Regions from separate parts of the Homo sapiens genome. Here region 2 is linked to region 1. The links come from fine-mapping of genetic effects on gene expression. A gene starts in region 1. The other region holds a variant in brackets. All regions are shown on one strand. Distances are between the middles of the regions. Region 1 holds the start of RMND5A (required for meiotic nuclear division 5 homolog A). Region 2 overlaps RMND5A (required for meiotic nuclear division 5 homolog A).

Evidence for each region.
Region 2: its variant is fine-mapped to the expression of RMND5A in whole blood (INTERVAL, PIP 0.93).

Annotation. Positions count from the first base shown.
Region 1 is chr2:86,718,225-86,723,599 of GRCh38, reverse strand. RMND5A (required for meiotic nuclear division 5 homolog A) reads right to left here and starts at 3,309. Exons shown (of 9, transcript NM_022780.4): 1 at 2,791-3,309. The coding sequence starts at 2,932. RNF103-CHMP3 (RNF103-CHMP3 readthrough) reads left to right here and starts at 2,478. Exons shown (of 8, transcript NM_001198954.1): 1 at 2,478-2,618. RefSeq lists silencers at 2,693-2,752, 3,231-3,389, 3,273-3,462 and an enhancer at 3,583-4,116.
Region 2 is chr2:86,745,471-86,750,845 of GRCh38, reverse strand. The region is part of intron 2 of RMND5A (required for meiotic nuclear division 5 homolog A); the gene reads right to left. Among named protein-coding and RNA genes, the nearest start is that of RNF103-CHMP3, 27 kb to the right of the region's middle. The variant T/G (reference allele first, on the strand shown) is at 3,135.

The sequences.
Region 1 (5,375 bases):
CTGCAACAGTCATTCACCAGTATGATGCAATGATGTGTTCTATATAGTCCTCAAAAATTCTGTTTTATTCATACCAGATTCTTGCAAGTATTACCACAAGTAATCTCAGAGAATGAGGTCCAAAGTCCTGACAGAGGGGTCCCAATTAGAGCCTCTCAGGTTATCAGAATCATTTGCCCAGACAGGTATATTCAGAAGCCCAAAAATCTTCCCTTTAAACTTGAAAATAGAGTTCCAAACTCAGTTTTCAGTAAAATACCTTTGAGAAGGGCATATTTAAGTTTCAATGTAATATCTACCACATCACCTGCCGAGAACTTTAATTTAGAAATCATCTGTTTTCAAAAATACCATAGCCCAGATGCCAAAGCATGATGTTTATCTTTACACAAAAAAACACCAAAAGAAGAAAGATTTTATTTGGGAAACTAGACCTGGCACTTGTGGTATTTATTTTCTTTCATGTTTTATAACTACCTTTAGTCACTTAATCCTATTATTGAAGAATTAAAGGAAATCAAAGAGATACCAATATAAGACTAGCAATTTGGTAGACAAGAGGGAAAAAATTAGGAGGCTGAAAAGGGAACACACAAACTCACCAACTCAGACTGTTTTTAACAGCATAGCATACTGTGTGGCCAATACCCCTCAAACCATAAATTCTGAGAAAAGTTCCCTAGTACCCAGTGGAGAGTCAAAAACAAATTCCTGCCTCAGCAATTTCTCACCATCATTTTATCCATCTGAGCCTGGCCCTAAATTTTCTAAAACAAAGCTCACAATCACATCCCCCTTCAACTTACATCCTCTCTCATGGAAGAAAGGTACTTTCTGTTCCATCATTTTCCTCTCAAACTCTGCCTATGACCTGGTCCCTAAAAACGAAATGTTCCTTCCACCTCTCCAAGTCTAGGCCCTTCATTCTCTTCCTCCACTGGTTCCTTGGCAGGGCCGGGAGCACAGAGGGAATACCTCCCACCGCTGTACTGGATTTCCCACACCTCGGTTCACATCGAATTTTTCTTCTTAACCCCCAGTAATCTGGCTTGTCTTAGCAATTCTATGAAACTGCAAGCACAGAGGGTTACTGACTCCCAATAGCCAAATAAAAGCTGACCAATCTCTCCTTTTCTAAGTCCTCGCCCTTTTCGATTTCTGCTGGCTCTATCTAGCCTTGGCTCTCCACTCGCCAAGGAAAATTCAAGACTGTGGTTAGACTCTAGTCTTTCTTCTGTGCAATCTAAGTGATCCCCTCCACTGTCCTCCTAGAAATGACATCAGAAAACAATCTTAGACCTATGCATCTCCAGCCACCAGTAAATAGGAAAGCCCTCGATTCTATCTTCATTAAGCCCTTCAACCTTACTTCACATGTCCAAAACCAAATTCAAAGTCTTCCCAGGATTCCTGTCCCATTCCACCTTCACTTCCCTGTATCTACCAACTATATCATCATCGCCACGTCAGTCAAATTTCCCTTCACAGGCAGCCACCAAGGTCTGCTCGTTTTTCCATACTAGTATTGCAACTCCTATGAGAATTAATACGGTTTTTCCATATTAAAATCTCATCCACTATGACTGCAGGTTTGCTTCCTTCCTGGAGTTCAAAAATGACTGCAGTGTCCAGAATGAGAAGCTGCTGTAAGACTCCTTTCCCATGGACCAGCACCCATCCTCAACTGAAACGCAGTCTGGGAAAGTGTGAAAAAATGAAGGAGAAGGAGAGAGACACTCAGCTAACGCCACTGCCCTCATCTCACCTGCCACAAATAATCTGCATCTTCCCCCAGCTACCAAACCGTCCTTCACATAAATTTCTGTTCAGCCCACAAGCTGAAAAGCCCCCTCAGCCTCTTATTAAAGACCCATTAAATAAGTCCTTCACTTCTTGATCAAAAGGAATCATCGCTGTGACTTCTAAAGTGTAAGAAAACCAAACCTTTAAAAGTACCTGTCCTCAGGGCTTGGGGCAGTAAAAAAAAAAACAATCTAGGTGAAACACCTTCTATAGGAAAATTTATTTTTTTTGAACGAACTTAACCAGGCAAAGCAAGTAACTAGCAACATGTGCACAATTTACTTGGGCAAATGTCGCCCGTTCCTCCTCGGTGTCATCAGAAGGTACACTGGGAGAACAGAAGGGTTGAATTGAGCTGGTTTCCAAGGAACCATGTCAGAGCCGCTGCGGAGTTAAGAGCTGCGTCCACACAGCAGCCAAATCATGAAGTTGCAGGAGCGGCTGTTGTTAACCCACAGCTAAGAATAACGCTCGACTTTCCAAAATAAAACGAAGAAACGAAGTCCCCTGGCCAAGGATTCGGGGCGGCACAGAGGGGAAACGGAGCTTCCTGCACTGCCCTCATCACTCAGAACCTGGGGTCCCAGGCGATTCAGTCACCGCCCACAGAACAGCGCCGCGGGCACCACGTGAGACTCCCGGGGCCGGCTGGGAGCGGGGGACGAGGGGCGCCCACTCGGGGGTCGGCAGTTTGCAGGTGCGATGGGCGGCCCCCTCACCCACGTTTATCCGGACTGGAGCCCGCCGCTCCCGGCTGGGTTTCCGGGTGGTTCGCGCTCCTTCTGAATTGGCAGCGAGGTCGCGGCAGGTTCGAGGTAAATCGGACGAAGAGGGGAAAAAGTCTCAGGGGTCTGGGGGCCTCCGCGCCTCAGGGGAGGCAAGGGCCGGGCCAGAGGCGCGAGGGTGGGTGAGGGATTCCCGCCGCGGGGCCGGGACCGGGGCTCGGGCAGTGGGCCATGCCCCGCGCGCCCACGCGGGCCGCCCTACCGTGGCTCTGCAGGATCTCGTGCTTGAGGCCGCCGGTGTAGTCGATGAGCTCCTCCAGGCCGCGCTCGCACAGCTGCCCGTAGCCTGAGAACTTGTGCAGCACCTTCTCCAGCTCGCGCTCCACCGTCACGCACTGATCCATGCCGGAGGCGGCGGCGCTCGGCTCCTCGGCGCCCAGGTGTCCGCAGCCGTTCGGCCCGGGCCCCACCGAGGCCGCGTCCTGCTCCTCGTTCCCCAAGCGGGCGGCGCGGGAGGCTGAGGCGGCCGAGGCGGCGGGCGCACTAGCCGCGGCGCCGGGGGAGCCCCGCGCAGCCGGAGCCCGCCTGCCCCATGGCGCCCTAGCCCCCCGGCGAGTCGCCGCTGCTCCCGTTCGCTCGCTGCACTCGGCTCCGCGTCCCCAGGCCCCGCTCGCGACGTTCGGGTGCCTGCGACGGCGCGGCCGATTGTTTTTGTTTTCACGGGAACCGACCGATGACCTGGTTCTCCCGGGCGGCACCAAGCGCCGCCGACTGGGGGGAGGGGGATGGCCACCCGGGCGAGGAAAGGAGGCGGCGCGGGCCGTACCAAGTACACCCTCGGGGTGGGGGGTGCGACCCGGCGAGAACGGGCGGAGGAACGCGACGGGCGCCCACACGCGCCGCCACTCTAATGGTGTGGGCCGTACCACACGGAAGGCGTGCGAGGGAGAGGGCGAGGGTGGAGCGAGGCCCCAATTGGCCTGAGGAGCTAAATAGGGAACTTTGGAGACAGCCCCAGCGCTCGGAGAGCGCAACAACTACGCGCTCCATAAACAAGGAGGCGGAAACCGGCCCTCACCACTCCGCCCAGAAGCGGGGAACCCCAACCAATGGGCGCGGGGAGTGGTAAGAAGCCAATCCCTGGCCGAGGCGTAAGCCTTCAGCCAATCCGGGCTGAGGGGCCAAACCAACGGGCTCGCTGTTGGAGGGGGTGACTTGGAGAGCGTACCGAGAAACGAGTAGTTTATGGAAAGCCTTGGGGGAAAACTAGACAAAAATACAAAAGGCTGTTTTCCATAGGACGTCGCCCTGATCCCAATTTATTTCGTCTCCTCATCGATCTTAAGGGAAAGGGGTACCGTCATTCCGAACTTTTGGGCGACGGATCCATCTCCCGGGAATGAAAAACCAAGCCAGGCCGCCCGGGGGCTGGTTCTGCGTCGGCGGGGGGTCCCTAATGGGAATTAAAGGCGGGGGTGATTGGGCCCGGGTGAGGGGAGCCGCTTGCTGCTCGCGAAAGGCCCGCGCCGGCTGTCAGCGCTGCCCCGGGCTTGCGACACCCAGGAGGTCATGTCCCCATCCCCCGCGGACCGTGGCCCTTTGGCCCCTTGGCCTGGAACCTCTCCTGACGGTGGCCTCGCCCCAGAGCCATGTGCCGGGCAGCTTAGCCGGGTGGAAAGAACACGCGCTGGAGAGCCGGGCAGCCTGGCCCTTGCTCCCTAGGAAGCCTTATGCTATCGGATCGGATCGGCTTTACCCCCTCGGGTAAATCCTTCCCATCGCTTGCTATGGCGTCTGCAGCCTTGGCCTAGACCTCCTTGATCAGCATCGGCTGCACTACCTTTGCATTTCTTCAGGAGCCCAGCTAGTTCGTGCCTCAGGGCCTCTGCACTTGCCCTTTCCTTGGCCCAGAAAACTCTTCCTCCTACCTTTTTCATCCTGAAGTTCTTCTCAGCTCACTTGTCCCCTTACAGGGTCCTCCCCTGGCTGACCACACTAATGTACTTCCTCCCCACCGTTAATACCATAACACATTTTATTATTTCCACACCACTTAAACTCTGAAATGATCTGATGTTTTATTTTTCTGTCTGCACCACTTACATAAAACCATGACGGCAGGCCCCCTGCTTGTCTAAATTTTTTGCCTAGAACAGCCCCTGGCGTGAGGTGGTAGGCAATTCTTTTTCTTAAATTAACGTGATAACGTTTTTGAGCCTTAACTTCCGTATAACTGAGAAATAATTGGAATTAATACTTAACTAAATTGTTAGATAAAGGAGAATATATGTAAATACCCATAATAGGCTCATGATAACCACATGATAAAGGTGGTAGTAGTCATTATTAGGGCAGCCCCAACTGGTATTATTTCAGATCTCCCTTCTCCCCACCCCATTTTTCTTCCCTCTTGGCAGATGTCTCTGATTCTTCACTGAGATTAAAAAAAAAAAAAAAATCTAGCTCCAGCAACTTCTATCACTCTTCTCCAAGTATTGCTGTGTACCACCCATTTTGTGAACATTCTCATGTACCCAAAGGACCAGGAGTCCCTTCTCCCTTTCCAAGACAGCCGTTGGGGCCTGCGGGCTGCCTCTCACCCCTGTCCAGATCTTCCCCCTCTTTCTCTGCAGTAGGTTCTTCCTTTCTACTTTCAGCCCAAATGGGTTTGACCTACCTGGGGGAGGAAACTTAATTTAACCCTCCTCAAGCACTCATTTCTTTCACTGCCAAACTGCCTAGACAAATCTATGTTTATTCCTCCCTTTTCTTCAAGGATCTCCTTGATAAGCTCAGTCACCCTTTTCTCAGTCTTTTTTTTTTCTTCTCCTTCAAAGGGTTGTTATA
Region 2 (5,375 bases), 27 kb before region 1:
TGGCAGTGCAAAAAGTCAGTGAAAATCAATAGAATTCATCCAATCTGAACACCAGTTTAAAAAAAAAAAAAAAACAGAGCCTCAGGGACCTGTGGGAAAATTACAAAAGCTCTAACGTGTGTGTCATCGGAATACTAGGAGAAGAGAAACAGTATGGTACAGAAAAAAATAGTTGAAGAGTATTTCCCAAGTTTAGCAAAAGACATAAATCTCAGATTCTAGAAGGTCAGTGAACTCCAACATGGACAAATTCAAAGAAATCTGACCCAAACATCTCACATTCAAACTGTTAAAACTAAAGATAAAGCAAAAAATCTTGCAGGCAGCCAGAGAAAAGTGACATGTTACTTACAGGGGAACCATGATTCAAATGACTACAGATTTCTCAACAGAAACTATGGAGGCCAGAAAGAAGTGGCATGACATTTGTCAAGTACTGAAAGAAAATAACTGTCATCCTAGAATTCTATATCCAGTGAAAATATCCTTCAGGAATGAAGATGAAATAAAGACATTCTCAGACGGAGGGAAACTGAATTTACTGCCATCAGACTTGCTCTAAAAGTATTGCTAAAGTCTTCAGACAGAAGAAAATGACACCAGAAGGAACATGAAACATCAAGAGTGAAAGAAGAGCAAACGTACATCACAGTGTGAAAGCTTTCCCAGCCTAATTCCACTTCAGCACCCTTTATCTTTCATAGGCATTGCTCCCTAATAAATGTTTTGCATTTCTTTTTAAAAATATATAAACTTAACTAGACAAGGCCATTTAGATTTAACTAAAATTGCAATCCTAGTCAACCACTGCTTAAATATACAGTCCAACCAATATGGGATTATTTTACATGATGTACAAGAACAGGTAGTAAGTAACCAGCAACAGCAACTGCAAACAACCCACTATTTACAATCACAATGCAGGAGTGCTTTTCTCCAAAATTAAGCACATTTTTCTCCCTATAAACAGCTATCTACCCTATCTCTAGATGTGAAAACAGTAGCCTAAAACTGAATACATACATTAAGGTTTGGAATCACTCAAGACAAAACAAACACAAAAAACCAAGAATATTGTCAGTCTTAATTTTTATTCATTTCCTTTTCACAGACATTTTTCTTAGCCAAGTATTTAACCTAAAGAATAGAAATAACGGGGTGGGCATGATGGCTCACTCCTGTAATCCCAGCACTTTGGGAGGCCGAGGTGGGAGGATCACCTGAAGTCAGGAGTTCAAGACCAACCTGGCCAACATGGTGAAACCTCGTCTCTACTAAAAATACAAAATTAGCTGGGCGTGGTGGTGGGTGCCTGTGATCCCATCTACTTGGGAGGCTGAGGAAGGAGAATCGCTTGAACCCAGGGAGGCAGAGGTTGCAGTGAGCCGAGATCACGCCATTGCACTCCAGCCTGAGAGACAGAGCAAGACTCCATCTCAAAAAAAAAAAGAAAGAAAAAGAAATAATACAAAGTACCTAGATGCTAAAGCAAGAGCATCCATGCATATAATGAAAAAACTGTTAACTAGCACTGAAGAACCACAACTGCTTGTATAAGATTATGTTTAATTTCTATTTATCAGATTCTGCCTGTTGAGAGCTAATTTTATAACAGTTCATCAGTATTTTTAAGTAAATTATTTTATCTTTATGCTGTCTATGACAACTACAACACCGGAGATGGTACTGCTTTCTGTCTCTTCTGGAGTAGAGCTCAGAGGCTGATCAACGCTGTTCTCTCCCAAATTCCACTTCCCAAAGGGCCATTCAAATGCATAAAGGAATGGGTTTCTAAAGATCTGAAGATGAGTTTATTACAAACTCAGGAACCTGCCCATAACTCTCTAAATGTCTAAATGCACAGTATAAGGAAAGAATAGAGAGATGAATTAAGAAAGTTCTCTCACTAACTTATCAACTGCATTAAATCCAAATACAACCTTCAGGTTTCTACTTATTCATTTAATGATTTTTCCCCAAACAACAAATTTATTAGTACCTATTCCTTAGGGAAAAATAAAACAACGCTGGAAGACACGCTGGTCAGCTCAAAGCACAGATCATGTTGAAACAATTTTATCCGGTAATATATATATTAGGTCAGAATTTTAATAAGCTACCATCTGACAGTACTTGCTCAGATCAAACAAAATAATCCCTTCAATTCTTTCCTTAATATACATATTAAAAGTAAATATTCATCAACTAGAAAATTACAAAAAGAGTCTAATATTTAAACAATTTTCTTTGGGTTTGCTACAAAGTTTTACAACAATGCCCTATGTGTATCTCTATTTTCTTAAGGCTTACTATGGTCACTACTACATAGGTAAGAAAAGTCAAACACCCTTACACTCAAAATCTAACTACATTCAAGCTCGTAACTTATTTGCTGCTCTTGGAAAAGAAGCATGAATAAGCAATGCATTCGATTGTTTTCTGGACACTTCTGAGCTCCCTTCTACCATTCTGATTTTCCAGTATAAACTACTGAGGTAGATAAGTAAACTTCCATAGCTTATTTTCTGGTCACATGCATTAAAAATTAAAGCTAAGATTATAAAATATATAGAGGTTGAGGAAATGCAATACACTGTCAAACTCCTTTTGTTATAACTGCAGGTTCTTACTCACTGTTGCATCAGAGCTAGCATTAGTTCCAGCTTCTGTTGCTAGGTAACCAAGCTCATTTGCATGGCTGTCCAGAAAATCCACAGCACTGCAAACCAGCCAAGAGGTGGCTAATGAAGAGAAATACCATCTATAATTAACATCTTCTGTCTTACTATACTTTTTCTTTTCATATTTTTTAAGCAAAGAAAAGCTTTGGCATCCTGTTCTTAATTGGGAAGAAAGGATCCAAACAAGAACCAAAAGCAAAAAAGCACACATCCAAGGGTGTGTCCATCCGGAGAGGATGTTCTGACTTGGAAGGAGAAATCCAGGACATACTAAATCTAGAAGCTGAGGCAGAAGAGGAGTAAATAACTTTGATACAACATCATTATGAAAGTGTGCGATCTAAACAGGCCGTATCATGCCGTATCATGAATACACAAATCAGTCGGAAATGGCTTTCACTGTTTACCGTCAAAAACCCATCCGTTTCTCAAATATATTTTATAAAATTATAA[T/G]GACTGAGCAGACAGTGGTCACAATATATATAAAACTCAGTATTTAATTCCTAAGTACCAATTCCCTAATAGTATTAACATGTATTTTGAAACTTCTCCATCTACTTTGAAGAAAAATTAGTGTATGAACCAACAAAATGTGCTATTGTTGCACCTACCAGGAATTAATTTCCCTTTTAAGCATCCAGTTAATCTGGTTTAGCAGTGAGAGGCAGACAGCAAAGGATACTTAACAGAGTAAGAAGACCTGGATTCTGGTTCTCCTCAGACTAACAGACGATAGCTACTTCGCATACAAACCACACAAGATTAGTATTCAGAAGAGTTTGAAACAAACACACACCTCTCAATAAGAAAGATAACTTAACAGAAAAAATGGACAGAACATGAAATGCACAAATGGGAAATTCCTAATGTTAAACATGAGAAGATGCCCCACCTTCAAGATGGTCAAAGAAAGGCAAAATTAGTACAACTAGATACTACTTCACACCCATCTGATTAATCTTTAAACATTTGAAGTCTGATAATACCAGGTATAGGTGAGAAATGAGGAAGCAGGAAGTGTTATAGGTGTTTGGTAGGGCTGTAAATTGGTATAAACCCTTCAGGGGAAAATTTTACAATACCTAGTAAAGCTGATAATGAGGCACCTGTCCTATGATGAAATAATCCATATTTAGGCATATACCAGATAGCAGTGCTTTACAAACCAAGGGCTGGAAAATAAACTTGGTAGTGTGTCATAATCAGCATTTTGTAGATGCATTTTTTGATGTAGACATTCCATATTCTCCTTACGGTATTTATACCTCTTCTTTGGTTATCAACATTAAGAGAAAGGTAGATTCACACTGTTATGTTATTGCTTTATTTAAAAAATGAGGGAGTAACGTGCCAAACCACTCTGCCAGGCCTTTCTGTCACATTTGCATCCCTATCCCTCCACTATTAGTTATCTGCCTTTCTGTGGCTATTTTATTAATTCTTCCAAGGATGATATGTATCTCTTACCATTCTATGGAAAGGAGAGAAATTCATATGTAGAGTGGGTGCCCTCAGGGCACTAGAGATGAATTCTCTCAAGGAACTCCAGTTGAGAAAGGTTCCTCCAAGTCTTAAAATCTGGGTTTTAATCCCAACTCTGTGACTTCAGGCAGGTTACTTACAAATCTAAGTTTTCACATCTGTATCTAGAGACAATAATCTCGACCTTACAAGTCTTTGGTGAAGATAAAGGTAAATAATGTACATGAAAACCTCTATGAGTATCCATCCATCAGTAAACCTTTAATACACAGTAGCTGAATCTGAGAGCCAGGCCAAACCTAACCAAAGCTGAATCTGAGGGCCAGGTTGCCACCAAACCTTCTGCTTCTGTATTTAAAAGAATCCTTATTAGAAAATATAAACAAAAACAAATACACGAAAGCATGCAGAGATATTAATATTCATTAATTTAAAAGCACTTAAATGCAATTGCAGACTGGATTAGCTAGCACAGTTTAATGGATATTAAGTCCTTTTGTCCCTCTCTACCCAACACACAGACCTTGTTTATCACATACCAACATAAAAGGCAGTTCTGGACTGCTCACCCAGAACTATCTTAAAATATTCTATATGTCATTTTTTTATACCATTACTCCATTCACTCCTTAATACAGTCAGCATTTTGCCTCACCAATGTAGATACTCCACCCAGTGGCAAAAGATCTGTTTAGATAATGAGGTTTAAAATTTTTTTTAACTATTATTGTTCCCCTTCAACATTACCAGCTCTGCAATGGCCTCAGTGATTTCCTAGTACAGCACAGTGTTTAAGAACAGATTCTTGAGTAAAAACTTTTTCCAAACCTTGATCCACTACTTCCAAATTATATACCTGGGTATTGAGTCTCAGTTTCCTCATATATAAAATGGGAATAATGTCCCTGCATCATGGGATAGATATAAATGTATGTAAAGCACTTAGCTCACTATCTGGAACATGGTCAACACTCAATATGTGATAGCTATTATCCTCCTACCTATGACTACTATTTAGTCTGTTTTCATCCTACTTAATGAGGTCAAGTAAATCCTCAACTGCTTTCATCATCTGATCAAATCCACACCTCTCAGGCCTTCCATCATTTACCTTTCCCTATTCCCAACAGGAGCAGTCACTCTAATCAAGTCAATCTTGAAGCATCTTAAACATGAGTCAGGCATATTCTCAGTTGCTGTTTTGCCCTTTCC